4 separate regions of the Homo sapiens genome follow, and regions 2, 3 and 4 are each linked to region 1. The links come from fine-mapping of genetic effects on gene expression. A gene starts in region 1. Each other region holds a variant in brackets. All regions are shown on one strand. Distances are between the middles of the regions. Region 1 holds the start of CACNA2D4 (calcium voltage-gated channel auxiliary subunit alpha2delta 4). Region 2 overlaps ERC1 (ELKS/RAB6-interacting/CAST family member 1). Region 3 overlaps CACNA2D4 (calcium voltage-gated channel auxiliary subunit alpha2delta 4). Region 4 overlaps CACNA2D4 (calcium voltage-gated channel auxiliary subunit alpha2delta 4).

What was found.
Region 2: its variant is fine-mapped to the expression of CACNA2D4 in monocytes after LPS (Fairfax 2014, PIP 0.95).
Region 3: its variant is fine-mapped to the expression of CACNA2D4 in thyroid (GTEx, PIP above 0.99). The same link has a PIP of 0.9 or more in breast, esophagus muscle, fibroblasts, gastroesophageal junction, sigmoid colon and subcutaneous fat.
Region 4: its variant is fine-mapped to the expression of CACNA2D4 in whole blood (INTERVAL, PIP above 0.99).

What each region holds. Positions count from the first base shown.
Region 1 is chr12:1,915,309-1,920,847 of GRCh38, forward strand. It overlaps CACNA2D4 (calcium voltage-gated channel auxiliary subunit alpha2delta 4), which reads right to left and starts at 3,344. Exons shown (of 38, transcript NM_172364.5): 1 at 2,939-3,344. The coding sequence starts at 3,165. RefSeq lists an enhancer at 1,417-1,993.
Region 2 is chr12:1,488,369-1,496,462 of GRCh38, forward strand. It overlaps ERC1 (ELKS/RAB6-interacting/CAST family member 1), which reads left to right. Exons shown (of 19, transcript NM_178040.4): 19 at 1,725-7,563. The coding sequence ends at 1,862. Among named protein-coding and RNA genes, the nearest start is that of LINC00942, 8.1 kb to the right of the region's middle. RefSeq lists an enhancer at 392-1,591. The variant A/G (reference allele first, on the strand shown) is at 3,490.
Region 3 is chr12:1,794,069-1,801,548 of GRCh38, forward strand. CACNA2D4 (calcium voltage-gated channel auxiliary subunit alpha2delta 4) reads right to left here. Exons shown (of 38, transcript NM_172364.5): 31 at 6,975-7,050; 32 at 6,318-6,370; 33 at 5,932-5,984; 34 at 5,607-5,627; 35 at 3,350-3,467; 36 at 1,600-1,712; 37 at 1,231-1,313. LOC105369602 (a long non-coding RNA gene) reads left to right here and starts at 6,371. Exons shown (of 4, transcript XR_931549.3): 1 at 6,371-6,855. RefSeq lists enhancers at 1,479-2,046, 2,158-3,063, 3,064-3,968 and silencers at 2,007-2,336, 2,677-2,806, 2,907-3,136. The variant G/C (reference allele first, on the strand shown) is at 3,669.
Region 4 is chr12:1,803,500-1,811,593 of GRCh38, forward strand. CACNA2D4 (calcium voltage-gated channel auxiliary subunit alpha2delta 4) reads right to left here. Exons shown (of 38, transcript NM_172364.5): 28 at 7,044-7,088; 29 at 6,779-6,841. LOC105369602 (a long non-coding RNA gene) reads left to right here. Exons shown (of 4, transcript XR_931549.3): 2 at 2,204-2,412; 3 at 2,792-3,059; 4 at 3,631-3,998. Among named protein-coding and RNA genes, the nearest start is that of LRTM2, 13 kb to the right of the region's middle. RefSeq lists enhancers at 994-1,916, 1,044-1,338 and a silencer at 1,077-1,236. The variant A/G (reference allele first, on the strand shown) is at 4,105.

The sequences.
Region 1 (5,539 bases):
GCTGAGGGTTGTGGGGCCGGGCTGACGAGCCCAGGACTGAGCTTGACCCCAAGCTTCCAGGGCCTCTGGTTGGAGAGTGGCAGACTGAGAGGAGAGAAGGAGGGGAGAGGCAGTGGACAGCCTCAGGCCAGGGCCGGAGGACCCTGAGGACAAAGGACAACCTGCCTGGCCACAGCTGTGGCCTCTCAATAAATCGTTCCCTCCAGTGCACTCCACTCAAAGCCACTGGGGGCTGCCGAACCCTCTGTTGAAACCTCAGAGAACGCGTGAGGCAAGGGCACAGCAGGAAAAGGCTCTGAGCTGCCACTGCTGAGCCTGAGGGCAGGGCAGGCCAGGAGGGCATAAGGAGGCCACACCTCACCCTCTGTGTAGGCAGCCTAGTGGGGAGCCCCGACCTCTCGCCCATGCCCCAGAAATGCACCACAATCCCACCATCTTGGCCAGGCTGGTGGGGTCCTGGGGGCAGGTACACAGGGCTGGGGCTGAGCCTCTCCAGATGGAGCGGAAGTGGTTTGCCTGTGCGATCCTTTCAAGATCAGCAGTCATCACTCAACCAATGTTTATCAAGGTCCTACCATGTGGCAGCCTGGAGCCACCCCACAGTCCCCACCCTTGCAGGGACAGCTTTGTCATGCGGGTAGCATAGTACATGTTTGAAGGTGCCCATGAAGGTTGGGGAGGGGTAGTGGTATAAGGGAAGGCTTCCCTGGGGAGGGAGATCTGAGCTCCAGGTTAGAAGTTTGGTAGAGGTTAGCCTGCAAAGGGGTCTGGGAGAGGATTCTAGGTCGGGAGTACAGAAGAGCTTGGAGGAGTAAAACGTGACTTCCGGGCTTCCAGTGTGGGTTGTTGACCTGATGGTGTTGTTACTGAATACAATTAAGACTATCAGGAAGGGCAGGGGGAATGAGCTGAGGAGGGTGAAAAGTGATGTGTGTACCTTGGGCTCTGCTGAATGTGAGGTTCCCGTTGTAGAGCTACCAAGTACCATTGGGAAGGTTGTGCACTGCACAACTCTAGAAGGCACCAATTGTGTTTTACCTTGAAAGACACAAATCTGAATTTAAAACCTCACATGATGTTTAGGAAAAGCTGCCCATAAGCACTGGGTATGTGTCTAGTAGGTAGAGACAGGGCTGGGAGTCATTGATGCAAAGGTAGGGATTGAAATTCTGAGGGCAGGAGGGCTCTCTCAAGGAGAGTGTGCAGCGTGAGATCTCTGAGCGTCGACAGCTGCTGGGGAGCACCCCCCACCTCCGGGGCAGGCAGAGGAGGAGGAGCACTTGAGGACAGCAGAGATAAGCCGTGCCCATGCAGGCCCAGCGGAGCGCAGTGCCACGGAAGTCAAGGACTGGGATAAAAGAAGACGGGGGCTTGTGTGTCCCAAGCAACAGGGTCTGGGGTGACAAGGCCAGGAATGTCTCCTGGATTGGGCATGAGGAGGGCTTTGGGAACCCTGTGGAAACAGACTTGGGAGGAGGTGGAAGCCCGGCTGGAGGGAAAGACTGAGAAGAGAGGTTCGGCGGGAGTGAGGACAGGTGGGGCCAAGTCCTGGGCAGGCAGATGAGGCTGTGTGCAGGCTGTTGTCTCTGGCAGCACCCAGGGCTTCTGCATAGATGGCCGCTGGGGCCCCCCTCCCTGAAGGCCTGGATTCCAGCCACCCCGACTTGGCCCTCAGCCCACTCCTGGAGTTGGCCCTCTCCTATCAGCTGGTGTGTGTTCTGGGGATGAAAATTGTTCTGAACATCTCCTGCAGCAACAGATAGCGTTACGGGCTGGCGGCGGGTGTAATGGTGAAAGTGCAGTCCAGGCTGACAGGAGTTCAAATCCCAGCACCTTCACTTCCTGGCCTTGTGAACTTGGGGAAGTCACCTGACCTCTCGGGGCCTCTGTTTCCTCAGCTGCAAAATAGGGATAAAAATAAGCCCCCACTGAATGGCTCTGCAAACTAACGGTGTCATTTGTGAAGCGCCCAGCTCCGTGCCAGGCAGGGAACAAGGAGAGCTATGCGGCTCGATGGGAAACGATGCTGCCTAATCCACTGGTCAGCAAAGGCTAAGCACAGGCACGGTGTGTCATTTAGGCTCCCTGTCCCCACTCCTGCTAAGACATGCAGTTGGCAGGTGGCTCTGTTGGTGGCCTGGCTATGGTGCTGGGCTCAAGCGGCTGGAGTAAACAGGATGGGGTCTGTAGCACCTACAGTCTAGAAGGCTCTGCTACCCACATGTATTGGAAATTTCCTTCCTAGGACCACCTGAGCTAGGGCCTAAAACACAGACACCCCAGAGAGGTTGCACAGTAATTTACATGTACACCAAGGTGCACATGACTGATACCGGGTTCTTTCCTGGAGCCGGTCTTAATGGCCGGCTAGAGAATCAAGGTTGGAAGGAGGCAGAAAGGTGTAGAAAGGGAAGACTGCGGCCACCAAAATCCATTTTTTTCCCCAGTTCCTGGACAAGCCACCTCCTGTGCGCATGAGACGTTCTGTGGGTTCAGAACTGCTTCCCCTTTTTGGAATGTCAAAATACGCATTTCCTGCCAAATGCTTCGGGGAGCTGCGATGCTGAGATAACCCGGCTCCTCCAGGCTGCCTCATCTCAGCGATTATCCTGAAGGAGCACCCGCCCTTCAGGTGTCCCAGAAGCTGCTTGTCAGGCCAGGAAGACAGCAGCCCTGATGATCAGTTCTTCCTAAAGCCATCCGGCTCCTGGGGAGAGGCAGGTGGGACTCCAGAACTCACAGAGCTTTTGGGAGGAGAAAGAGGAGGCCGGAGAAGCAAAGGGCTTTACAGCAAGAGAGTGGTCAGTCGCAGCCACTGGGGAAAAGCCCAGAGGGAGGGCAGGGGCGGGAGGAGTGGGCAGAGGATGGAGGCCCAGCCCGGGAAGAAAGTGGGAAAGGGTGACCGGGTTTTTGGGGTGGGGTTGAACGTGATGCTTACGTTTCCAGAGGAATCTTGGCCTGTCCCCACGCAGGGGACAGGGAGGTGCCTAGAAGCAGCAGCCACAGGAGGGCCGAGGTCTTCTGCACAAAGGCCCAGGCCACGGGCATTGGCTGGAGGGGAATCCAGCGGCTGCTGGAGCTGGGGTTTGCGAGGAAGTTGGGAGTTGCAGGCATGGTGGGCCTGGGGTTGGGGAGGGGAAGGAGGGCAGAGCAGCCACAGACCATGAGCTCTGTCTGCCTTCCTCCCAGACCCCAGGACGCCCCAGGCCTTTGTCTTCCGTGCCTTGGCGAGCCTGGGGTCTCCAGCCTCTCAGTCCTGGGTGGGGAGGGCTTCTCTCTGCCCCACAGCTGCAGCTCACAGAAGAGTCGCCCCACCTAGCAAGCAGGCCTCGGAGACAGGGACTGGGGGAGAGGCTGTGGCAACATGAAACCCTTTAATCCGCTGGCCTCTCCTCTAATCCTCTCCTGACAGCAGGGAGGGGGTGGCAGGGGGTGGGGAGCTGCCTCCCAAGATTACCACAACTGCAGCTGGTTCCCTCAGGGCTATAGTGCACCCCTCTGCTTTAAAGAGGCAGCCCCGTTCCTGTGGAACCACCTTCTGGACCCAGGAAGGGCTTGCTGTGACTATGGCCAGAGGACAGCAGCTGAGTTTGCACAGTACTCTGATTGACCCACAAATCTCTTGTTGACCCTGAGGTGGGGGTGTGTCCTCATCCCTGCTTGGCAGAGGCTCTTGAGGCCCGGGGAGTCCCAGGGGCAGAGCTGGGACTCTGGCTGGTGTTTCCAGGCCTGGTGCCTTTGGGACAGGTCATAGGTCATAGGTGAAGTCAGTGGACCCACGCCTCCACATCTCAGCTGCTCGTGGGCGGGGCTGGGGACGCATTTGCTGTGCAACTGATGAAGCTTCAGGACCCCTGAATCCACAGACTCCCCCCTTTCCCGGAGAGGCCCTAGCAATGTGTTCCTGTGGCCAAATGTTTTTGTAAAATATGCAAAAGTTGAGATAGTTTAACCATAACCGGTTGAGACTGTCTGTCTCTTTCCATCCCAACTTCTCTTCCGTCTGAGGGACTCTTAGTTGGATGATGTTTGGGTGGCTGAGGGCACTTGGGGGATCCAGTTAAGAGGAAAGTGAGCTGGGGAAACACTTAATCTGGGCTTAGTGGGATATGCTGACATGGTTCACAGTGACTTCTTTGTACAGAGAAGTTACCTCCAGCTGAGTGTAGGCAGGGCTTCCAGGAACACTCATCCCACAGGACATCCCACCAGCAGATGCAGCAAGAGAGGCTGGGCCGTGATGTGAGCGCACGCTGTCACACCCACCCTGGCCATGTGTGGTGGGGAGGGCAAAGTAACAGTCAGGAGCTCATCTGCAGAAAATCTACAAAAAGCCACACAGGTAACATCGTTGGTGGAGGATTTGGTTCTCACCAAGGCCTGGCCAGGACAGAAGTTCTCTCCTGTTAGGAAAATAGTGGATATTGAAAGAATATAATTACACCGTACATTGCTTTGTGTTCTGATGAGAGTTACACAAATTAGAATTGATCAAAATTCTTGTGTTGTGAGCCCAAACCAGTAGTAGTACCACATGGGTTCTCCGGGGGTGAAGTCATAGATTTTATGCAGTCCCCGTATCAGATTATTTTCTTAGTGTAACTGGTGCACTGTGTCTTCACAAAATCTGGTGGTTCCAGCAAAATGGTAAGCAAAATTGCCACCAACGCAGAGAAATGCTTGCAGAAGCAAGTGTTCTGATGACAAAACTCCTACACAGATTCATCAATAAGTCAGTGCTGTAGTATCAGAGTAATCTGGTGGCACAGTTTTGTGGCTGAATACAATGTATTTTTTAAAGGCATCTAAATGATTCCTATGAATGCCTTAATTTCACATAAATTTTGTACATGTTTTGAGGATTACAAATCAAACACATTTAGAAAAAATACTACAGAGGCACACTGGGCAGTCAATACATAAAAAGAATGTAACTTCTCTAGGTTTTGTGAATTTGGTGGAATTCACCAGCTTCTTAAAATTTGTAATTTGGAATGATTTTTAAAACTGAATAAATATTCACCTTTTTTCAACTTTTTTATTGTGGCCCAATATTTATTGTGGCATAAAATGTGCCATCTTAATCATCTTTTTAAGTGTACGGTTTAGTGTAATTAAATACATTAATCATGTTGCTCCACCTTCGCCGCCATCTATCTCTATAATTCGTTCATCTTGTAAAACTGAAACTCTGAACCCATTAAACACTAGCTCCCGTTCCCTCCTCCCCCAGCCGCTGGCGGCCACCACTCTCCTTTCTGTATCTCTGATGTTGACGGTTCTAGGGACCTCACAGAAGGGAAGTCATCACATAGTTGTCCTTCCATGACTGGCTCATTTCACTTAGCACAATGTCGGTAAGGTTCACCCACGGTGCCGCGTGTGTCAGAATTTCCTTACTTTTTGGGGGTGACCAATGATGGGTTAATATTTCATTGTGTGGATAGACCTCATTTTGTGCATCCGTTCCTCTATCGATGGACCCTGGGGTGGTGTCCTCCTTTTGGCTACTGTGAAATATGCTGCCGTCAACACGGGT
Region 2 (8,094 bases), 430 kb before region 1:
TTATATGACTATCTCATTAAATCCTTAAAACAGCCCTATAAGGTAGGGCACAGGAGCTCACGACTGTAAGCACTTTGGGAGGCCGAGGCAGAGGCGGGATTACTTGAGCCTGGGCGTTCAAGACAAGCGTAGGCAATATAGACTCCCATCTCTCCAAAAAATTAAAATTTAAAACATTGGCCTGACATGGTTATTATTGCCTCATTTTACAGATGAGGAAACTGAGACTCAGACAAGTCAAGGTCAGATGAACTGATCGGCAGAACTGACCTTGAAACCCAGGCAGCCTAACTCCAGAGCCTATGTTCTTAACTAGACTTTATATTCCATTTTTAATTTTCCTCCTTTCTTTCCTAAAACCTGCTGTCTCCTTCGTTCTTGGTCTTATTTGTCCAATATCCCCAGCTAGAATTGTCAGAAATGATTCTCCAGTTCTCCCTCACTTGACACCTCCTCCTTTTAGTCCTGCCTTTTGAAGAGGCTCAGACCTGTGTGTTCCTTTCCACGTCCCTGGCCCTCCCTTGCATCAGCCTTGCCTAACCCCCACCTGGGCTGCGAGCAGGAGCTGCCCTTGGTGGACTCTTCCTTCTGCTCAGTCTGAGAAAGTGGCGATGCTCATGTCACTGTACCATTTAAAACTGCGTGGACTCCTTTTTTGTGGTTGTGGTTTGGTTTCTAGGCAGATCACGCTGGAACGTCCTCACTTCACGTGCTCAGTCTGGCCCTCGCGTGTGTTTTCAGCTCCATTTCCTGTCATTCTCCACCCACTCCCTGTGCCTTACATTCCTGCCATCCTGAGGCTTCCCTTTTCGCAAGATCTGGGCCAGGCCTGTCCCAGCCCCACGCATCAGCCTTTGTTCTTCTGCGCTAAGCCTCCTTTGTCTTTGGTCTCCCAGACGGACTCTAGTCAGCTCTGAAGATCCAGACCCCACGCCTCTTTAGTAGCATTTCCTCAGACTCCTCAGGGTGAGCAGACACTCTTAGGGCTGCCACAGCACATGCTCAAGCCTCAGCTGCGGCCTCACTCTGCTGGGTGGTCGTTTATCTGTTTACATGCTTGTCTCCATTAACCTAAATGTGTCTTCAGGACAAGGACCAAATCCCATCAGCTTTCACCACCCAGCACAGAGTAGCGCTCAATAAAGGTTGGTTAAAATGCTTGAAGGAATGTGAAAGAGGCTGTTAAAAACAACAGGAAGTTAGAAATATACTTACTTCTAAGCAAAGGGATTATCTTGTGTTTCTCAAAGTAATCTCTTCAGCTAAATTAGCAGGCCTCAGGTGGGTAGGCTAATGTACCGGATGAAAGCGATACACGGCAAATGGAGAAGTCCTTTAAATTCTAAGTTCCCTTAGGGCGAGGGTCGCTCCACAAGGTTAGGATCCTCTCTGAGATCACCATGCCCCTCTCTCCTGCTCTCATGCACGTTCATGAGCCTGTGACTTGGTGGAGAGAACATTCTGTTTACAGTGAGAGGCCAGGACTGAAGTCACAGCTCTGCAAAAATGATCAGCTTTCGGCCTAGAACCAGTGACTAACTTTTTGGGCCTCACTTTCATGAAGACGCATTTGATATTTGCTTTTACACTTTTCTTATGGTTAATTTTGATGCAGAGAGACTTCACATACAGAGTGCCTTTGTCATTTATTGATGAAAAATAATTCTTAGCTCAGTGCAAATGGGATTGTTGTATCTGAAATCCATCTCTCCTTTCCCTTTCAGCTTCAGGATGAGTTAGAGAAAGGTGAACGGGACAATGCAGAACTGCAGGAGTTTGCCAACGCCATTCTTCAGCAGATAGCAGACCATTGTCCCGACATCCTAGAGCAAGTGGTCAACGCCCTGGAAGAGTCCTCTTGACCCTGCTTTATGGGGAAGCCTGAGGTAGTCAACCCAGGAGCCAAGAAAAGAGAACTACGAGGAACAGGTGCCCGGAACCTTCTTGGCACCAAACACTACAAACTTCATCCCAACTTGCTCACTTGAAGAAGTGTGATTCCAGCACCGTTTCTACATCTGCCATCTTACTCTGCCTTTCTGCTTTGGATGTGGTCTCTACACTAACCTTCTTGATGTCCAGGGTAGATAAAGGGTCGAATCTCTCTGAAGAACTGCCACCTGGTCATCAGCAGTGGAGAACTGTGGGAGCTGGTGGCTCTGCCCTGACAGAGAGCCATGGAGCAGAGGAGCCTCTCACCTCCTGTCCTCTGACATGAGAATGAAACCAGGAATGGACTTGGAGTTCAACAGGCTGAGAGGATGCCTCCAATGGACCAGAGAGCTGAGTGTTCTAATATCACAATAGGTGCTTTCTCCTAAAAGGGCAAAAAACAATCTCAAAAAGATTAGAAAAAGAGAAGGGGGGAAGGGAAGAGAAAATCGACTCTTCTTTTTACTGTCTCTTCTGCTTACTTTCCACATGAGATGCTTTGTACCGGGGAGCTGTGAGCAGGCCTCACGATGGCTTGGGAGCACTCGTTCTCCCAAGGTCTGAGTCTTCATCCAGCCCTGCCTGTCTGTCGCAGCCTTCCTCACTCTGTTCCTCGGCCAGTTAACAAGAAGATGGTGTGAGGTGTTCTCCACCAGTCTCTCCTGTTTGAGACTGTTGACGTTATCATACTGAGGTGTTAGATCAAATATCTCTAATTGAAGAACATGTGAGGTTGAAAGAGCACCAGCCAGGGCAACATAGCGTGACCCTGTCTCTACAAAAAATTAAAAAGAGAACATACAAAGTTGACATATGAGACCCTGTTGTCCCCGCCTGCAGCTTTGCCCCAGTAACAGATGCCCGTTGCTCTTGGGCTGGTTTCCCCTGAACACCTCCAAGAGGCTGCCTGCCTTGCCAGCACCCGTGTCCTGAGCTCCTGCAGCCCAGTGGCTGCTGAAGTTGTGATCCCTCACTCACCCTGCTAGCTTTGCCCTTGACTCGTCTTCTCTGAACCTCAGCCTCGTGCATTGCCTGGAACCTTCTTCTAGCATAAATGAAGGTTTTTCCTCCTACACACATTCCTTCCTCGGTTATTTCATTCAGAGAATATTTATGAAATGCCTACTGTGTGCAAGTCATCCATCCTTGAAAAGGCCACTTCTCAGTGAGGGAGAGATGTAGTGGATTCTGTGAGACATACCTGCTGGAGTTGAAGCAGTAAATAGCATGTCCTTCCCCTCCCCGATCTTAAGGTGTGTTTTCTAGAAAAGTTCCCTAATGGAATTCATGAGTTTGGGGGTCTCAGTCACCCGCTTGCCTGTAGGATTCCATTTGATGATTCTGGATTTTTGCTGTTTGTTATTGCCCTTAGAGGGGCTCTGAGTATCTACTTGTGGGTGGCCATTTCCTGACATCTGCATGTACCTCGTGGAATTCAGCCAGCTTCATGTTGCAAATCAGAAAGCTGACCCCAAGACTGCAAATCAATGAAGGTATTGGCATTGTTAAGGACGTAGCGTAGACAACAGCAGTCATAAATAATTAGGCAGGAACTTA[A/G]CCCAAATCTAGTTCTTTGACCACCTCTACCACCAGAACCCAGCAGACACTCACATCTCCTGATAAGAGTTGCTGGACTCGATGTTTTTGTTTTGCATTTTCTCCTCTCCTTCCCCACTTACTCAGAGAATTTAAAGTCTGTAGAGTCAGCACAGCCCCATCAGTCCAGGAACTTCCCACCACCAGCCCTTGACTGTCCCATTAACTGACATGGTCAGATTTCCAGCTCCCCCTACTCCCTGCTGTGAAACAATCCCTCTCCCTGTGAGAGGAAACTGTGGAGCGTTTCTTATCGAAGGTTAAATGGACTCTGCTCATAAACCTCTTACTGAGATGCTTCCTGATAGCCAGGCTGGCCAGAGAGGGGTGCAGGGGTTAGATAGTAAGTGGTGGTCGTTTGTGGTCAGTTACCTCAATTCTGTTCATTGCAGTGCCCGTAAACCATGTAGAAAGCTCCCAGCACTGAAAGGCAGGAGTGTTAGCATCTCGCTTTATCCACCATAACGTAAAGAACTGCGGTGTGATAACAGCCTTCACGGGGCCACGGTGGAACCAAGACAGCAGGCGAGGCCATGCCTAAACAAGTGGTCTGGCACGGGCACTGGCCAGCTGCTCTCTCCAAGCAGGTGGCCCAGATCCCACCCACGTGGACTTTCTCATCAGGTGCAGCGCCTGCCACTCTCAGCCACTGGGTGTGTCACTCTCCTCTTCATCTCAGCATTCTCCATCACTTCCCCTCCAGAAAAACGGATGGAAGGAAGCCCTCTGTGACACTGCTTCTGAGAAGAAGCATTTCCGGGACCGATATCATCTGTCTGGTCTCTGTGAACAGCAAGGAATCTTCTTGACCGTTCTTGGGCACTGGAGGCTGGCTAGGAGTTCAGTAATAAACGTGGCCTTCGTGCTGTAGGGCAGAGTGGATGCAGTTTGTAGCTTTCAGAGTGTCTCATTGAGTCTAGATCATTGAACCAACACTTAACCAAATGTCCCACTCCCATCACACTAGGACTTGTCATTCCATGCCCCTCTCCTAGTGGTCATGGTTTCATATGGGCATACAACTGCTACTGAAGTTATATAGCCTTGAAAACTCAGTGCAGGTTGCCCTTAATTTTCCCCAAACCCCTCCATCGGCAAGTCTAGTTGCCCTTTAGCACCTAAAGATCTGCACCCCAAACCAATGTCACCATAAAGAGGGCACGAAGAAGAGTGGGTGTGATCCCAACGGGGTTTTGTAACTGAAGAAGCCCAGTGTGAGCTTCTCATCTTTTCATATACCTCTAACCCCCGGTACTCATTGAATCATTGATGAGGTATCTCAATTGAGATTTGCAAGGACTTTGATACCATTTGAAATGGAAAAATTTTGAACGGGCTTTAACATGTTTAAGAAATATGGATGGGGCCGGCCACAGTGGCTCACGCCTGTAATCCCAGAACTCTGGAAGGCTGAGGCAGGCGGATCACCTGAGATCAGGAGTTCGAGGCCAGCCTGGCCAAGATGGCAAAAACCCCGACTCTACTAAAAATACAAAATTAGCCAGGCGTGGTGGCGTACGCCTGTAATCCCAGCTACTCAGGAGGCAGGAGAATCGCTTGAGCCTGGGAGGCAGAGGCTGCGGTGAGCCGAGATCGTGTCACTGCACTCCAGCCTGGGTGACAGAGACTCCATTTAAAAAAAAAAAAAAAAAATATATATATATATATATATATATATATATGGATGGGAATCACCAAATTCATCTCAGCTCTAACCTTTTAACCTTTGTCCTTGCACTTTACAATCTAAAGATCTACCTGTGGCTCTCAGACTTCCTCACACTTGGGTTTTAGAAATAACTTGTAAAGCAGACTGGACCCAAGGCCGCCTTCAGTGTCAAGAAGGGCATTGTGACTTGCCCCTCAATTTCTGTCCATTGAAGTCTGGTTTTCCATGAGGAACTTGCGGGCTCACCCACCCCCAGAGTGAGAGAAGAGGAAGGCGAAGTCATCACAGACACGGTCTTAGCCACCTGCTGAACTAATCCCTCCGCTATTGAGGGTCAGGGTTGTGAGGCAACCATCATGTGTCACCCCAAAATATAAATGTTTCTGAGCCGCCCATCCACTGGCATTTGGATTTGCTGCCAGAGTCCTGTTCCTCCCAGAACCATCCCGCCCTCCTGTTGACCATGTTACTTGAGTGTAGGCCCGGTGTCAAGACCCTCAGAGTCTTTGAGGAAAGAGCCAAGCAGAGAAGACCGCTGCGTGGAGTGTGACACCACATGGCATTTCTCAAGCCCAGCGGACCCTGTGTCAGCAAATACCAGTAATTTAACATCTGCTCCTGGCCTCCTCTTCACCTGCCTGGGTTCGGAACTGAGGAGGAAGGATGAGAAGAGACTGCAATGCAGCAGGCACCCTCTGCAGAGTGAGGCCGCCCGTCCATCACTGCCAGCCCTGGGCTGCTCAGGAGGGGACGTGAACCACTCAAAGGAATGTCTTAAAGAGGATCTGGAGTTTCCCCCATGCAAATTAGGGAAGAATTAGGCAAGAAAAGACATACATTACAGGGAAATCCTTCTGAACAAAATGGCTGTCTTCACCTACTCTTCTTGCAAGAAAAGACATACATTACAGGGAAATCCTTCTGAACAAAATGGCTATCTTCACCTACTCTTCAGCAAAAACCGTCTCCAGACTTTTTAGTGTCAAAAATGTAACCAACTGTCTCCTGATTTTTTCCAATGTGTTTGGCAAGTGCTGTGGCCCTGTTGTAGGTACTTCTCCTGACTCTTGGGGGAGAAGTGGTTTTAGGGATTGATTTGGGGGAGCGGGTTTTTGTCCCATCCCACCTCCTCTCTTCTTTCTCTGCTTGTCGATATTGTCTGTGTGATTCAGAGAATTGGGGCAGTTACATTGTGTCTGTTGTTGAGATTATTAAAAGATTAAAACGTAGTTGTAGAAATGAAAAATTAAACAGCTGTGTTTTAAAAATGCAAACCAATATCTTGTTAATAAAGGAATTCAAGCTATGGGGCAGCCACACTCCCCTCCTCCCAGGCTGGCATAGGTGGCCCTGGGCTGGCGGCTTAGGAAGCATGGAGCACACTTAGGGTAGTGCCTGCCTGGGCAAGAGACACCTGCCGAGCAAAAGGAACGAGAATCTGGGGCTCAGAGCCTCGCAGTTGTGCCAGGATTTTCCTATACATGTTCAGGACCTCTGGGTAGAGGTTTCACAGTTTGTGACCCCATAACCACCCTCACCCGACGTGGGTTCTAGCTCAGTGTGCCTAATACTGCATGGTAACCTGGGCTTGACCCTGAAGCCCCTGCCTGGCAGGCCACAGGACCTCTCCTGCCCACTTGGTGCTATCTCTTCCAGTGACCACCCAGCACGGGTGAGCACTGGCCAGCCTGGAGCCTGCAATCCAGGTGGAACAGACTGTCCTCCATGTCAGTTCCTTCTGGCTTCAGGCCCTCAATTATTTCCCTTTGAGCTTTTTTAGACCCTAGATCTCCTAGGCCCAGGCTCTCTCTTGACCCCAGAGAAGCCACTGTCAGGAAAGGAAGTGAACCCTACTGAAGCCAGAGAATTCACCCCGGCCAAAGCAGGCCCTCTGGGTCCAGCCCCTCATTCCACACCACGCCAGTATTGCATCCATCTACTGCAGCTACACATCCTGAGGGCAGCACCACCCACTCTGGCCTGCTGGCCCATCGCAGGACTAGCCCAGGCACCTGCCGGGCATTGCAGGATATCCAGTGGGGCCTGTGACTGCTCCCTGATGCGTCAGAAGAGAAGTGTTGCACTTTAGTGGAGGAGCTGAGGAGCACCTGCCCCCTTGTAGCTTGAGTTCCTTTTGGTAACAGTAGCAGCCTCCATGGTGGTGTCTGGGATGCACGTGCACCCGCTGCCTTCAGCTGTATGTGTGTGTTCCTGCTGGAGTTGTGTTACTGACAGGATAATGACATTACAAAGAAATTGTGTTATATTCAACTTTGCCTTGATAATTATTGTAAACACTTTGTTCATTTTTTCTTTTTTATTCACAAACTAAATCCACCAGGAAATTATAAAGTTATTTAAAAACCGTGCTGTGTCCTTCTTTGAGTGTCACCCAGCTGATCATCCAGGCAAGGTGTGTCCCCAAATGCTAGAAAAGATGGACAAGGTCTGCAGTGCCCAAGAGGCCAACTCCAATGGCAGGCAGCCCGAGGGCCAGGGGTCCCAGGATTTACGGTGGGTGTGGGAGTCATCACAGCCCTGACGGGCATGAGCCTCCTTTCCCTTCCCGCCTGATCTCCGGGTTTGCAGCTTTTAAAGTCAATTCCCGGTTCCCTTTTTCCTTCTTTCTACCCTCAGCCCCGGGCCAGGTTATCCGTATCAGGTCTCACTGTTCCAGAGCTTAGAGTAGGTGCCCAGCGCTGAGGGATGGTGCTGCTGTTGTACCAAGGTAGAAGAGCCAGAAGGGCGGCCACCAAGGGAGGGCTTTGCCCAGGACTGGGACTCAAGCTTCAGCAGGGCGCGTTCTGATGCACTGACTCTGGGGCGTGCAGGCTGGGTCAACAGAAAGTGTGTGTGCCAAGAGTAAAAGGAGCCGAGAAACCCTGTGCTTGGACGCG
Region 3 (7,480 bases), 120 kb before region 1:
ACTGTATGAAGCACCCGGCTCAGGGCCTGACACCTGGGTCTGGGTTCTGGATCCGTACCAGCCACTATGACTATTATCCACGTGACGGCCCCCTCACATTGCTCGATCATTCGGAACTAAGTGTAGCGGGAATGAGGACAAGATGGGAAAACTGCATTCTAATTCACCTAGGGCCCAAGCCCTAGGAAGCGTGGCTCTTCGTTAAAGCACCTTGGGATCCTGGTTGACTTCGTATTTTAATGACACAGGGGCTCTGCTGTGCTTTCACACCAGCACTTCAACAAATGTGAAGGGTTTTTCCCACCCCACTCTCTGGACACCAACTGGGTGTCTGTCCTGAAACTCAATTCAAGTCTGACACTATTGAGAGTTAGCATTAGAGCTCGCAAGTTACAGGGCTCGGTCCCACAAGGTGGCCGTCACTTCAGATGCCAATCGCAAGCCCCAGGTCTCCTGTCCTTCTGACAGACTGGCTGTAAATCTAGGGTTCCCATGAGCCTGTCTCAGGCTCCGTGAGTTGTTAGCGTGGCTCACTCAACTCAGGAAGGTGCTTCCCTCACCATGACCCGTTTATTATAAAGGACGCAGGTCAGGCGGCTGAGTGGAAGAGACACGTAGGCCAAGGCACGGGGTACGCAGAGCTCCCACACCCTTTCACCAATTCGGACACTCTCCAAACACAGTGGCTCGGGGATTTTATGGAGGCCTCATTATGATCATTGATTAAATCTTTGGCCACTGGTGATCAACTCAGTCTCCAGCCCCCTTCCTTTCCCAGAAGCCAGGGGCTTGGAGCCAAAAGTCCCAACCCTCTAATCCTAACTTGGTGTTTCCTGTGGCCAGCTCTCATCCTGTCTAGGGCCCCCAGCCACCAGTCATCTAATTAGCATACAAAGATACCTCTATCATTCCAAGGGTCTTAGAGGCACCTGTGAAGGAACCAGGGACTAAGACCAAACACTATAACAAAAGATGCACCTATCACCCTAATCAGGAAATAACAAGCGTTTTAGGAGCTTGCCAGGAATCAGGACAAAGACTAAATAAAGATCTGTTTCTTATTATATCACAGTGTCACAGGGCATAAACGCGAATGTTTCCCCCGAGAAGCACAGGCACAGGTGTGTTCATTGGCATCCCTATATGCTCCTGTCTGCAGGGGCACAGACCCAGGCACAGAGGGTTTGGGGATGAAAATCCAGCCCACCCTCGATCCGCCTCAACCCGCACCTCTGGATGGAAGGCGTGGCAGGAGTCTGGTCGCCGGCGGAGCTTCTGGGAGCGCATCCGGTCACATTTGACAGAGGCATTATGTGCAGAAGCCACTGTTAAGGTCAATATCTCAGGACCGGAGCCCATTCTGCAGACTGGAAAAAGGTCTGGAAGAACCTGCTCTGGTGCCACCAGTTGCCCTGCAAGCAGCTTTAGGGTCAGGAGGCAGCACCGGGGCCCAGGGAAGGGTTAGAGAACAAATAACGGAGCCCTGTGGAGGACACGGGCGGTGAAGGAGGCTGGCCCCGCTGCTCAAAATCTGAGCCCTACAGACACCTCCTACAGCCCCCGCCCCCACCGCACACATCCCCGAGCATTGCAGGATATATTTGACTTCTGTCGCCTCCTGCAGCACTGGTGGGAAGATGCTGCAGTCACAGGTGGGGTCTGTCACCAGGAGGAGGAGGTTACTGTTGGGAATCTGCTGCACCACAAATACCCTGCAGCAAAGAAAGGGAGTCGAGGATGGCTCCGTGGCGACCACGAGAAGGGCTTCTAGGGAAGGAACTTCTGGAGACTTTAGTGTGGAGTTAGGGTGGCAGGGAAGCCCGGAACCATGAGGCAGGGCGGGTCGGGGCAGCTAAGGGAACGGGCCTGGCAGATGGCTCAGTCCTACTGGCTTTGCTCACAAGCCTTTGCTGCTGCATTTCCTTTCCTAGCAGACTGGAGACAGTGAGGAAGTCCAAACTGGGCCGCTTTGGAGAGTGCAGAGTTGCTATTAATATATGCAGGGACGACAGGCGTAAATCAAGACCGTCCGGAGCAAATGGGCGGGCGAGGCAACACTTGCTCTGGGTGAGGGTGGCGGGGGCAGGCCCGGGCGAAGCGGCAGCGCTGGAGCTTGGCCACCAGGTGGCGCAGTGGCCCCGCGCTCGGCGAGGCCGCCCTGCGAGGAGTGGCGCGGAGTGGGGCGGAGCCCGCCCGCCAGGCCCACGGCCTTCCCAGCAGTCCCAGCGGCCGCCTACCGAGCGCCTCCCCTGGGATGGGCGGTCTCACACACCCAACGTGCACACCACAGCCGTGTATACTCTCAGCCTTCACGGCTCTGTATGAGGCTGGTGTTGTGCCCATTTTGCAGATGAGAGAATGGAGACTAGAGGAGGCGAAGTCACTTGCCCACGGTCATAAGCGGGGGAGCGCAGAGCCAGTTTTCAATTCAGGAGTGTCTACTCTGAAGCCCTCGCTTCACTCCGGAGCCCGCTGGCTCTATCCTCGCACCGAGCCTTTGCGACAAGTGCACAGGGAACGCTAACCCCAGCCCTCAACGCTGCACAGAACCCGGGGTGAAACCCGCGCAGCACGACGCGCAGGGAGTGGGGGAGAAGGGAGCCCCGATGCCAGCGCCGCAGGTGCCGCACTGTTAAATGGTGTGCCACGGGCCCGGGGGTCTAGGGACCGCCTGGCGAGCGGCACGTCTGGCTGAGGCGACCCTCGAGGAGGCCGCCGCATTCCCAGCGTGGGGGTCCTCCCGGGCTTGGGTGCGGGGGGTCAGCAGGAGAGACCCTTCCGCGCGGCCTCCCTGCCTCCCCGGGGCCAGGGCGGGTTATAACTAGCGGCTTCCACACAGCAGGAAGCCTGACAGAGGCTGCCCGCGGGGCTCCCAGCGACCCGAGGACATCGCACACTTCCGGCCTTCTCTTCTCACACTCCCTCTGCCTTCCAAGTTCTCCCCACGCAGCTCAGGCGCGGGCACTGGCACCGCCCTGGGCACCGCCTGAGCAGGGCTGGGGGAGACCCGCCGAAGGGCCCACTCGCCCAGAGACGCCGTGGGGTCACGGCTGCGGCCTCGGCGGGGTGGGCTCGACACACAGGGTCAGGCCTCGGGACCACCTCTCCCCATCCCGGCTGTCCCGGTCCCCAGCCGTCCTGCCCGCCTCAGACCGTCCGCCTCCTGCGTGTCTCCTCCACTGAGGACGGCGGGGGAAGACCCCGGGAGCGTGGGCTCTGCACTTAGACGCATCCCCTCCTCCCGGCTGTGGAGCCGTTTCCCGGGGGTTCCGGGGCCCTGCCCGCACTTCCGCCTTGCCGAGGGCGGGAGGAGTGTGGCGGGACGGGCGGCGCCGCCCTGCGGTCTTACTTCTGGCAGGGCCCGCACTCCACGATCCCGTTGGCCTCCCGGATGGCCGGCTGGTACACGAACACGGGGTACTCCGTGTCGCAGGGCTGCAGCGGGTCCTGCTTCTTGTGTTTGTGGGCTGCGGGCGGAGAAAGGACATCACGCCACCGAAGGGGCCTCTGGCCTGCGGTGACCTCGCCTCGGCACTCCCAGGGCCAGAGTTCACCCCAGTGCATTTGCAGAGGGTCCCTCCTCAGGCAGTTCTCAGGACACGCGTGGGAGGAGCCGGGCGGGGGGTGAGGGGAGGGAAGACACCCGGAGTCTCTGGAGAGGGTGGCTT[G/C]GCACGGGGAGCGCCGCAGGGGCCCTGAGCCTCGGTGGAGGGAAAGCGCTTCCTCTGGGGAGCCTGGCCCTCACTGAGCTGGGGGCAGTGCACCATCTCCAGGGCCCCTTCCAGCACTCAGATCCCGGGGGAGGGTCTGAGCGGGGAGCAGAGGCAGTAGGGGCACCAAGGGGTGGCTTGGGGGTACTTAGGCCCACCACCCCTCCCTTCACTGTGGACAGACGCAGTGCAGTTCCTGGGCAATCCTGCCCTGCTCTCCCGCACAGCCAGGCCCACACTCCACCCATTGAGCCTGAGCGCCTGCGGTGGGGGCAGCCGGGCAGGTGGGCTCCAGGCCTGGGGCTGCGGAAGCCCAGAAGCCACAGCCACCCGGTGCGGGACTCCTCGGGGGCTGCGCGATTTGCCTTAGCTCCCTGGGACAAGGACAGTGGACTCAACCAAAGGTGGAGGCGAGTGCCTCAGCCCCGCTCTGCAGGACCCGAGTCCGTTCCCTCCCGGAGCCTCCTGAGGTGGGCACATGGCAGAGCAGGGCCCTGCCACACAGGCTGTCTGCATGGCCCTTCTGTTCTCAGGGCCTGGCTGTGGCCCCCAGGGATAGACCTAGAGGCAGGGAGCACAGGTGTGAGCTACCTTCCCAGGCTCATGCAGAGTCCTACAGGAGAGCATGGGTCTCCCCAGCTTCCAAATCCAGAAGCTCCCAGCCAGAGCTGGAAACCCAGAGGGGACACTAGCTGGCGTGCAGAAAACTCTCACCGAGAGGAGCAAGCCCACAGCGGCCAGGGCTGTGAGTTTTGTCCCCAGGGCTGGGCACAGAAGCCTGCCTGACAATGGCAGGGTTGAGTGGCGTCCCCAGGGTCACGCAGTGGAAGGGGCTGCAGCACCTACGCCCCGGCCTGGGACTCCAAGTCCAGTGCGCCTTCACTGGGGACACTGACATCTGTGTAGGCCAGACCAGGGGGAGGAGCTCCAGGGGACAGGTACCCCAGAGAAGAGAAATTCTGAGCAGGCAGATTGAGGGGGATCATCTTCAACTTTTGCAAGATGCAGCTGCTGACAGAGACAGAGGGGACAGTGTCCTGTCACTGACACCTAGTGACTGTGAACACCCCAGAGCAGCCCCACCCGATCGCGGATGTGAGTCCAGAAGGAGTCTGGAGACACAGCCCGAACTGCCCTGAGCCCAGGGGCAGAGGAAGCCCCAAGCCAAGGCCAGCAGAAGAGAACGAAGAGCAAGCCAGAGAGAGGACCACAGTGGAGATGAAGAGATGGGATAAGCTGGGGACAGCCCAGGTGGTGGGAAGTTCTGGAACCCCATGGCAAAGGTTCTAGGAACACGGAGGAACTGAGCAGAGCCCGCTGAGGCAAGATGGCCTCCTGCAGTCATGGAGGGCCCAGGCGCCCGGGCAGTGAGTGCTTTGAAAGGCCAGGCTCATTGCCGCCCTGCACGTGTGGCCACAGCCACCGGGCTTTGTGTTGGGGCCTCTCATGGTTGCTGCCTCTGGGGGACTCTGTCCTCAGACACAGGGTCCCGCAGGGGAATCATCCTGAGAGCTTCCTGGGGCCCCTGGAACCCGGAGTCCCGCTGAGGGCTGGGGTGCCGCTGTTTGCTTCTCCAAGGGGTGGGCTGGAGGTTGCTCACTCATACTGGCTCATGGCCACCCGGCCACACCACCGGCTTCCTCTTGGAATCTTACGTGTTCTCACCCAAGGGGAGGCTGGAGTTTCTCATTTTCCCTGGGGCCTGACCGTCCTCATGTGGGATGAGAACTGGGCTAGACTCCCCAGTCCCCCAACCCCCAGGAATGGTACTTTAAACCAGGAGAGCTCAGCCCTGCTTGGGGTCATTCCTGGGACAGGTCATGGAGGGTGGGTTCTTTGTAGCTCCTGCTGCGTCCCCAACCCACCGCCAGCAGGGATGGCCTCAGCTGGGCTACTTACAGTGATGGAAGACACTTTTGGCTGGCCGGAACATAAGCCCAGCACAGGGTGGACACGGCACAGGAAAACATGGTGGCACATGAGGGCAGGATGTCATGGGGTGGTGATGATGGCACATGGAGTGGCGGTGTCCCAAGATGATGTCACACACAGAGCCAGGAGTGAGGGATGTGATGAGAGAAGGCCACGCAGGGTGAGATGTGAACAACGATGCTTCAGGGTCACCTATCCCCACTGTCACCCACCCCACAGGGAATGGTCTCACGTTAGTGGACCAAAATGCCACTGCTCTTCAGCACATGGCCCTGCAGCTCCGTGCACTCACCCTCGGCCCCTCTGTCGTACCAGGAGCCCCAGACACTCCACTCCAGCAGGAACCTGTCAGACACAGGACTGAATCTCGGAGACCTCTGAGCCCTCCCGACTTGGGTTCCCAAGGAGCTGGAGTATCCCTGACAGCCCCCGGCCCATCCCCTCTCCTCCAGGACACCCTCTTCCCTGCTTGAGGGCTCTGGTTGAGCAATGAGGTCCCTCCCAGGGGCAGCATGCAGGGAAGAGGTGGCGTCCATGCCCAGGGATTGTGCCCTCCTTCCCCGGGGTCTGGTAGCAAGTGGGTTGTCCTGGAGACCTTGCAGCCTCCTGCTCAAGGACACCCTCCTAAGCCACCCTCGCATGCAGCCCTCCACCAGCCCCGTGTCTACCCCCACTCACAGCACCAGCTCCTGCAGCAGCCACCTGGTCGCCGTCAAGAAGGCAGAAATTGGCTGGGAAGGAGAGAGTGCACACCGCTCGCACCTAGGTCCAAGGGTGAGGGTGCCCCCCCCCCACCACCAGCACCACCCTCAGAGAGACCAGAGAGTGGGCTGCCCTGCCACTGGGAGCAGGGGCAGCAGAGCACAGGCCAGCAGCCCAGCACCCCCCATCCCCCCACCTCCCACCTGCCCTGCAGAGCTGAGCTAGCTGGGAAATGCCTATTGCAGGTCAGACATCTCGGGTGGGGTTGGACATGCCCCTCCAGGAGACGAGTCAAGCCCTCATCCTGGTGCTGCACTGCTGAGGATCCCTGGTGATCAAGCGGCAGTGTCAGGGGCTGAGGCTGGGGCAGGCTGCTCTCTCTGTCTCCGCCAGAGGCACTGTTGTGTCACAACTACCAGAGCAGTCCCTCTGAAGCCCCAAAGCCAGACCCAGAGGCCTGCCTGGGAGTGGGACTGAGAGCAGTGGCTCTGAGCAGAAGATGGAGATGGTCAAGGTAGGGCCCTGGGGCCAGACACCCAAGGTGGGTGAGAACAGGGACCAGTGACCTCATTCCAGGACAGGGCAGAGGACTGGCTGGCTGGCTGGCAGAGGGAAGGGCTGGGTGACACTCACGCTGACCAGGGGCTGGGCTGCACTGTGGTGGTGACTCGAGGGTTTGCACATGGCCTGATAGTCATACATAGTCACTCTGAAAATCAGAAGCGGGCTGTGATGAGTCCAAAGCCACCCCCACCCCCTGCCCCTGCCTCAGGAGGCTTTACTAGCAGAGCATCCGTTTACCGCAATTCCCAAGGGCGCCTGAGCTAGGACAGCAGATCAGAATACAGCTCATGCTGAAAATTACATTTCTGCACTTGGAATGGTTTAAAGACAATGAAGAGCAAATGGCTTTTGCCCTCGGAGTTGGACGGTTTTCCCTCTAGGGTCTGAGCTGCGGAGCCCCTCCCAGGGATGCCCACATGCCCTTACGCCCTCCCCACATCATGCTGACGCCCTGGCTCCATAAAGGTTGCTTTTGCAGCTCTTTGGGGGCACCCACTGTGGGTTTTGGAGGTCAGGATCCTGAGATCCGCCAGGACCACTTAGCGTCAGCTCTCGGTTTGCTGTGTCTATTTGGA
Region 4 (8,094 bases), 110 kb before region 1:
GTCCTTACATCCTACAGTATTTCCTGTGTAAGTGGAAATGGCTGACTTATAAAATTAAAACGTAAGGATGCAACCCACTAAAAATGCATGGCAAATTGTAATCTAAAAATGGAGGGTCAATTACAAAAGTAAGCAGCAGGAAAACAGATTCAGACAAAGGTGCTCACACTTGTCTGTCTACACTCTGCTAGTTCTTTACCTGGAATGGCCTGACCACCAAAAACTATTTCATAATACCTTTTATTCATAAGGCACTCACCAGGTGAGTCTGATGCAAAGATGAATGAAATGGACACGAATCAAGAGCTTCAGACTAGTTTGCATGGACAGGCAGGGAACACACAAACTCTCAGACATGGCTGGCTGAAAACCGGCACCTCCTACGGTGGTGGAAAGGAGTGGCAACCTAAAGCCCTGGCAGGCTGCATGAAAGAAGGCAGTGGACATGGCAGCGGGACAGCAGGGAGGGTCAAGGGCATTCCAGGGACACAACAGCACATGGGAATGTGAAAGACATTGAAATCCTGCCTGTTCTTCACGGCGCAGCCCTGAAGCTCTCCCTGGTGCCTCCAGCTGGAGTAAACTCTCTCAGCTGGGGCTCGCTTTTTGCTATTCTAGTTACTGTGTGTGTGTGTGTGTGTGTGTGTGTGTGTGTGTGTGTGTGTCCCCTCCGTCACCCCCTCACCTGACAGCAGGATTCTAGGGGACAGAAATCCACTTCTGTCCCACAGCACCACACCATGTCCTGTTCACAGTTATTATTCCATGCATATTTGCTGAAGGAATGTGTGAGGGAATGAATGACCCGAGTCTTCTGCTCCCTGGGAAAGTGCAGCGGGGTGCAGACAAGGCTTCTGACGAGGCTGGTCTTAATTCCTACAAACCTGTCCCATTCTCCTTCCTAATTCTAGGCTTATTCACCAACAACCCTGTGGTTTAGACCCTGGATTCTGAGAAGAGAGGTCCCTGAGAGCAAGGATGTGTATCCTGGACACTAGAAAAATGTATCCCCCTCCATAAATTACTAGCTTGATTTTTCTAGGATTTGTCACTCTGGCAGAAAATATCCATTCTCCCCGTCTTCTTTAGTTAGGCAGCCTGACTTTAATTATGGCAGCCATGTGCTCAGCGAAAAGACTACATTTCCCAGTAGCCCTTGCGGCAGGGACTGGCCAATGGAATGTGAGCAGAGCCGCTGGGAGGGACTTCCGGGAAGCGGGCCCAAGGCCTCCTGCCTCTTCCCCATCCTCGCTCTTGCGCTCTGGGAAGTGGACTCGAAGGCAGGAGCCCCTCCAGCTATGCTGGGATCGTGCGGATGGGGACAGGCTGGGCCCAGGCTGCCTTCATCCATTCTTTTATGAGAGAATAAACCTTTAGTTGTTTAAGCCACTTCTCTTCTGGCAGCAGAACACAATTCCTGGCTGATAGTTTCTTTTGAACTTTGTCAGGGCAAATCCCCGACTCAAATACAGTCCCTGAACCTGCAAAGCGAAGGTCCAAACGTCGACGTGGGATGCCTTGTCGATTTAGGAGCCCCAGACCGCCCGTGGAGTGGCACCCAAAGCATAGCACGATGCAGGGGCCTGACCACCCCAGCCCCCCTTTCATGGGGGACAATTCACAAATAAGCAGTGGCCCGTGGGCTGCCTGAACTCTGGGGCTGGGTCAAAAGAGTCGAGGACCCCCCCTGCCTGGCCTTCGAGTCTGGAGGGAGGCCAGGAGGAGGAGGTCCTGTGAGCACCACCCAGAAGCCTGCGGGGGAAGCAGATGGGGGCAGAGGCAGGCGACCAAGTGATGAGAGGTTGGGTAGTCCCTCCCAGGCCTGGACTAATTTGCAGGGCTGTGGGAGGCTGTGCCCAGAGAGAAGGGGTGCTCTTGACTCTGATGACAGATGGAGTAAATGTCCCATGGCCTCCTTACCTGGGGACAGCCTCCGTTTCTTCTCTAAAGATGGGAGCTCATCCTCCTAAGGGGTGTGGACACTCAAGTCCCTGTGTCTGGCTCGGGTCGGGATCAGTTTCCTTTTGTCTGCTCCTGGCTTGTGCAGCCTCACCTGCCCCTCCGTCCTCCAGGCTGCAGTCTCTTAAGGAGTGTTTTGGACACTCAGGGGTGCCTGGGAGGTACGTGGAGGAGCGGGGTGGGGGTGGGGCAGCACTGCACTCCCCAGAAAGCCACCTGAAGAGCCTGCCTCTGACCACGACAGGATTAATTCTATTCCTGGAGGGCCCAGTGGAGCAGGGCCATTTGGGACGCCAGGAAGGTAGAAGGAGCACCGCTGCCAGGGCATGTGGTGTCCCGGAAGATGGCCAAGGCAGGCTGCCCAGAGTGGAAAGGATGGCAACACGTGCCAGGCTGGGATAGTGACTTGAAGATGAGGAGCCTGGGCTGGGCGGGCCGCAGGCGGCAGGGAAGGTGAGAGGGATTCAGAGAAACAGGAGCCGAGGCCCAGAAAGGCATGCCTGATGCCCCCTGACGACAGAGAGGGATGCCCTGCTCTGAGGGCCTGCCTGGTCCGGCTCACTGGGCTGGGGTGTGGAGGGAGCAGGGTGCTGTGCTCTGAGAGATCCAGGTCCCTCAGGGAAAGGTGCTGGGATGGGGCCTCGGATTTTCTAGGCTGCAGTTGCTGCCCCTTGAAGATCCACTTTGAAGCTTCCATGGGTGGGTGCCGCCCAGAAGCAAATGACAGGAATCGGAGTCCCCAGATTCAGGGTGACAGATCCACTATAAATATTACAAAGCTCCACAAAGCCACTGTCATTGCCTGTCCCCAGCTGTCTGCTTCTCTTTCTAGGCCCCACATCGAGGGTTGCAATCTTGTCATCCATAACTCTTATAAGAATGAGCCCTGGCCTGGAAGAGAGGCCAAATGTCTAATCAGCAGGCCTGGAACACCGCCGGTGCCAAGAAAGAGCCAAGCAGCCACTCCCTGGGGCTGGCTGCAGATGAGGCCCTTGTGGTTTCCCCACTCACTGACTACGGGGAGGAGGGTGTGCAAGGACTTTGTCTGGGAAGAATCTTTGCATCTGTAGCTCAACAGGCTTCTCTCTCCAGGCCCCTGGGTAAGCCCTAGCAGGGACAAGGAGTCGCTGGAAGCCTTTGACATATTTGCCTAGTCAGGAAAGTGACAGCAGCCAGCTAAAGTGCATTGAGATCCACAGCAGCCAGGAGGCCTGGGGAGGGTTCTCAACCCACCATGCACCCAGTCACCTGGAGGGCCCCTTTGAGCAGACTGCCAGACCCCAACCCCAGAGTGCTTGAGTCCCTAGGTCTGGGGTGGGACCCTGGCAAATCTGCATCTCTAACAAGCTCCCAGATGCTGGGGCTTCTGTCCTTCAGCCACACTGGAGGCCTAGAGATAAGCAGGGAGGAGCAGTGAGGAATGAATGAGTTAGGGGAGGCCAGGCCCTGTGGCCCTCGATGGCACTTGTGTGTTTGGGGAAGAGGGGCAGGTTTGGGTCGGTTGGTGGGAGTTGGTGGTGGGCAGACTCTAAAGTGGTTCACAATGATCCCGGCCTCCTGGGAGTCCTGCCCTTGTGTAAGCCCCTCCTCTTGAGTATAGGTTGGACATAGTAACTTGTTTCTAGCAAGCAGAATATGGTAAAAGTGATGGGGTGTCGCTTCTGACATCAGGTTTCAAAAGACTGTGACTTCCACCTTGGTTTGCTCGGTCTGATGAAGGAACTTTGAGCTGTGAGCTGCACTGTGAACTTTGCTGTGAGCTGCCCTGTGATGGGAGAGGAGGCCTCCGCCTCACAGCCCTGGAGGACCTCAATGCTGCCAACGTGTGACCAGATGCAGATCCTTCTCCAGTCAAGCCTGGACATGACATGACAGCAGCCCTGGGGACCTTGATGCTGTGGCCTGTGCAAGACCCTGAGCCAGCCGCACCCAGATCCCTCACCCACAGAAACTGCCAGATTTTAAGTCTTCTGCTTGTAAGCCACTCTTTTTGCCATAGTTTGTGTGCAGCAATAGATAACTGCTCTAGAGTTGTTAAATGAGTAAGTTTTTTTAAAAACAGCAAAAACAGATGGACGGACAGAGGGTCGGACAGCTGAACAAATGGCATTAGCCCCAGACTCTCCGCCGCCCTGTCTTCCACTC[A/G]TCTCCCAGTCTAGCGCCTGCTGCCTCCAGCCCTCACTCTCAGGCCAGTTCAGTTCTCCACACGGTTACCCAGTGTCTGCTGTGTGCCAGGCACCACACCAGGCAGGGTCTCTGGCCTAGTGCCCTCCCATAACCCGACACAGTTCAGGCTGCATGGTCAGAGCTGTCCAGAGTGAGGAAGGAGGAACTGGGCCCTGATCACAGTGGGGGAGCAAGGGTGAGCCAAGCACGGCGGGAGCGGGGGCCCCAGCAGGAGCCTCTAGAAGGTCAGTTCGTTTCTGCCCTGCTTCATTTCATGGAGGGTTTGGGATGGCATATAAAACTACACACGGGGTAAAAAGGTAATAGAATCATTGAGAAAATGGGGGTGAATGAGTTAAGTCAACAAATACATTATAAAATATAAATCTCTGAGTAATTGATTGCTACCACATCTAATCCAAACTTGTTCTCAGTGATTTTACAATCTGTGAAGACATGTGAGCAAATGTGGTCTGGACAGAATAGGACCAAAGTGGCCCAGTGGGTTATGAGAGGGTCCCTCGAGGGACCCTGGAGGGACCCTGGAGAGGCCACGTGCTCTCCAGCTTCTCTCAAGGCTGGGGTGGTTTCCCTCCAGGGCCGCCTCCCCGCACGGTTGTCCCGCTGCCTCTGGAGCAGGGGCTGGAAACTACAGCCCGTAGGCCAAGCCTGGCTCACTGTTGATTCATGTGAGCCCTTGATCTAAGACTGGCTTTTCCATTTTCAAGTGGTTGGGGAAAAAAAGTCAAAAGATTGATAACATCTCATGACACGTGAAATTTATATGAAATTCACATTTCAGTATTCAAAGGTTTTACTGGAGCAACGCCACCTGCATTTGCTCACAGATCGCCCATGGCTGCTTTCTTGCTACAACAGCAGGGCTGAGTCTCATGAAGCTCAAAACCAACATGTGCATCCGCCCCTTTAGGAAACGCTCGCCTACCCCTGCTCTTGAGCTTGCTCTCAGGCTTGGCCATCCTCTCCCTCTGTCCTGCCACCTCCCATCCCAGTGTCCAGGATGCAAGCTCTCTCTGGGATGCCTTAGCCCATGCTCCGGCCCTTGAAAGCCAACACCACGGGAGGCCTGGGGACACGGTCAGTCTCAGTCACCCAGGGCGAGAGGGGTCGGAGCACGAATGAGGGGGCATCAGTGATCCCAGAGCCTCACACCAACCACTGGTTTCAACTCTTATCATCACTGGTTTTCTCCCAGAACAACGGAAAAATACAAAGGTCCGGTGCTCTGTCTGGGGAGGAGTGAAATGACGAAAATGGGGCATGAAAGGGAGAAGGGGGAGGGTACCAGAGGCAGGCGCCCAGGTGACCGTGATGCTCAATTAGCTGTGTGTCCTGCAAAGCCCCGCCCACACTCCCACCAACAGGAAGTTGAACGAAACCATCTTTGGCTTCTCTACTCTTGTGGCTGAGAACTGCTGCTCGTTAAGTGGGTCATTTAAACACTACCCCAAGGAGTTAGATTTCATGACCCACTGGTGCCCCTTTGTCCTCACTTGCCCTCTTTCCCAAGTCTCCTTCCGACATCCCTGCTCCAGTTCCTGCCCTGTTCCGACGACTTCTTTGGATCCGAAGCCGCATCCCGGTCAGGCCAGACCACAGCCCTACCATGCGTGGAGGTGGCCTTGGCCACGACCTCTGCATCAGCCTCCACATCCCAGGAACTTAGAGCCCTCAGCTGGGGCTGGCTTAGACACTGTGTAGTCCAGCCCCCGGCGAGACACAGCTAATGGAAGTCGCTTGCCCACATCACGTTTCTAATTAGTAGCAAAGCTCACACAGAACCAAATACTATGCCCCTTTCCCCGAGGCTCAGGCAGGAGGCGGTTCTGATGCTTCTGCCTTGCTTCAAGGAAATACATCTGGTGAATATATCTGGATTTGCTTCAGGTTTGAATGGGCTTCTTTCTCAGTTTGATTCCTGGCTAAAGGAATAATCCATTTTGAGGCCCCTTTTGGAGCCCAGCAAGTATAAAAATATTATTGTACTTTCTCTTTTTCCTTTCTGAGCACATGCTGGGTTCAGGGAGATACCCACAGCCAGCGGGGGCGGGGGGAGGATTAGGATGTGCAAGCCAGGCATTCAGGCGAGAAAGCATCGCGTCCATCCCCCATTTCTTCTCTGACACACCGAAGGCCGGGCGTGGTGGGTGAGAGTATAATTTTCCATAAGGTCCAGACAGGACAAGAACATGAAGTGGGGAAGCCATGTCTTCTGGGCCCCACAATGGTAGAAAGGCAGGCGGGGGTTGGGGAATGATCTGATAAGTGAGTGTGCTTGGATCCTTGTGGGGAGGCCCCGAGTGAGGCTGGGCCAGTGTGGCCAGGCAGGGCCCTGAGATGGGGTCACTGAGTGGCTCCTACCAGGCACGGGAGGAGGCCAGGCTAGTGACAGATAAAATGAAGAAGTAATATTTTCTCTGACTCCCTGAGTTGAAAAGTGCTCCAAATTCTGCCTTCTTGCTCTGTTGACTTTGGTGTCAGAACACCATGTTCTTCAGACCTTTCACCTGAATTGGCCCCGAACAGGGTTCCCTCCTGGGGCCGTGGGGCTCTCTTTAGCTGGAGTGGCTGCCCAATGTCTCCAGTCCTCCTGCCGCCCTCTCCCCCTCATTCTATATCCCCAGTGACTCACCTCTCGGGACCTCTTGGAGATCAGAATGAACCCGTTGTTGTCGATGACGAAGCAGTCCAGATCCTGGGAGGAAACCCAGAAGGGAGGTTATGCCAGGGCCCTCACCCACCCCGGTCCTCCAGCCTGTCCCCCAGCTCTGGAAGGCAGCGTGGGAGCTTCACTGCAGGGAAGGAGGGCATTTGGGAGAGGGAAGCTGGCCTGCCAGGAGGACCGGGCGGAGGGCCATGGCTCCCTCCTCCACCTTCCTCACACGGGCAGAACTTACACTGTCCTCGCAGCTCTGTGTGCACGGCCCATCCACAGTGCTGCACTGGAAGGAAGAGGAGAGACTGAATGTGGACACTGCATGTGTAGTAGAAATGGCACGTGTAAGTGGGAATGCTGTGTGTGTGGTACGTCTGCAGTGTGTGTGCATGTGTGCATGGGGTGTGTATCTGCACATGGAGGGCACCTGTGTGGGGTGTGGGTGTGGGATGTGTGTGTCGTATGTGGAGAGCACGTGTGTGAGGTGTGTGCATGTGTGTGTCTATGTGTGGGGTGTCTGTACGTGGAGGGCACATGCGTGTGGTGTGTGTTAGCATTGTGTGCGTGGTATGCATGTGGTATGTGGCCTGCGGGTGCTGCATTCGGCAGGCCCTGGGTGGTGGAAGGGCCCAGGTAGCCCTTCTAGAGGTGCAGGCTCTGCAGCCCCCAGGCCTCGTTGCTGGTGTGGGGAGGGGACTTTGTGGGCTCTGTGGGGCTCCTGCACTGGCTGTCTGGTTGAGGCGGTGGGTGACCGCAGCCCCCTGCCCTCCATCCCTCTCGATTCACTCTTGGGCTCCCTGCCCTTGCCCAGAGTCAGGCGGCAGCAGCAAGTGATGGGGGCCGAGGGGCTCGGCGTTGCAGGAGATTGAGGCTGAGGGAGCTTGAGGGAGATGAAGGGGGCAGCTCAGAAGCCCAGAGGGACCTGAGGGCTCTGGGGAAGCAGAGGGGAAAGGAGCCAGTAGAACGGACAGGACGAGGCCAGGCAGAGCTGGGAATTCTCAGCCAGAAGCCGCTGTCGTCTCTGGCATCTCTTGCCAGCCATCAGGGCCTGGACCCCGGACCTTGGACGGTGGATCGAGGTGGCTCTCCCTTTTCAGCGGGGAGGCATGCCAGTGGCTTTGGAGTGGCGAGAAGGGGTGACTCTGGGTCGTGCCCTCAGCACTGGGCTGGCAGGGGCTGGGGACCAGCGCTGAGGCCCGGCCTGCAGGCTGGGGAGCTGAGGGGCTGAGAAGTGTAGGGGCCGGGAGGGCATCCTGAGAGCCTCAAGGCAGTGGAGCATCCAAGGGGAGGGA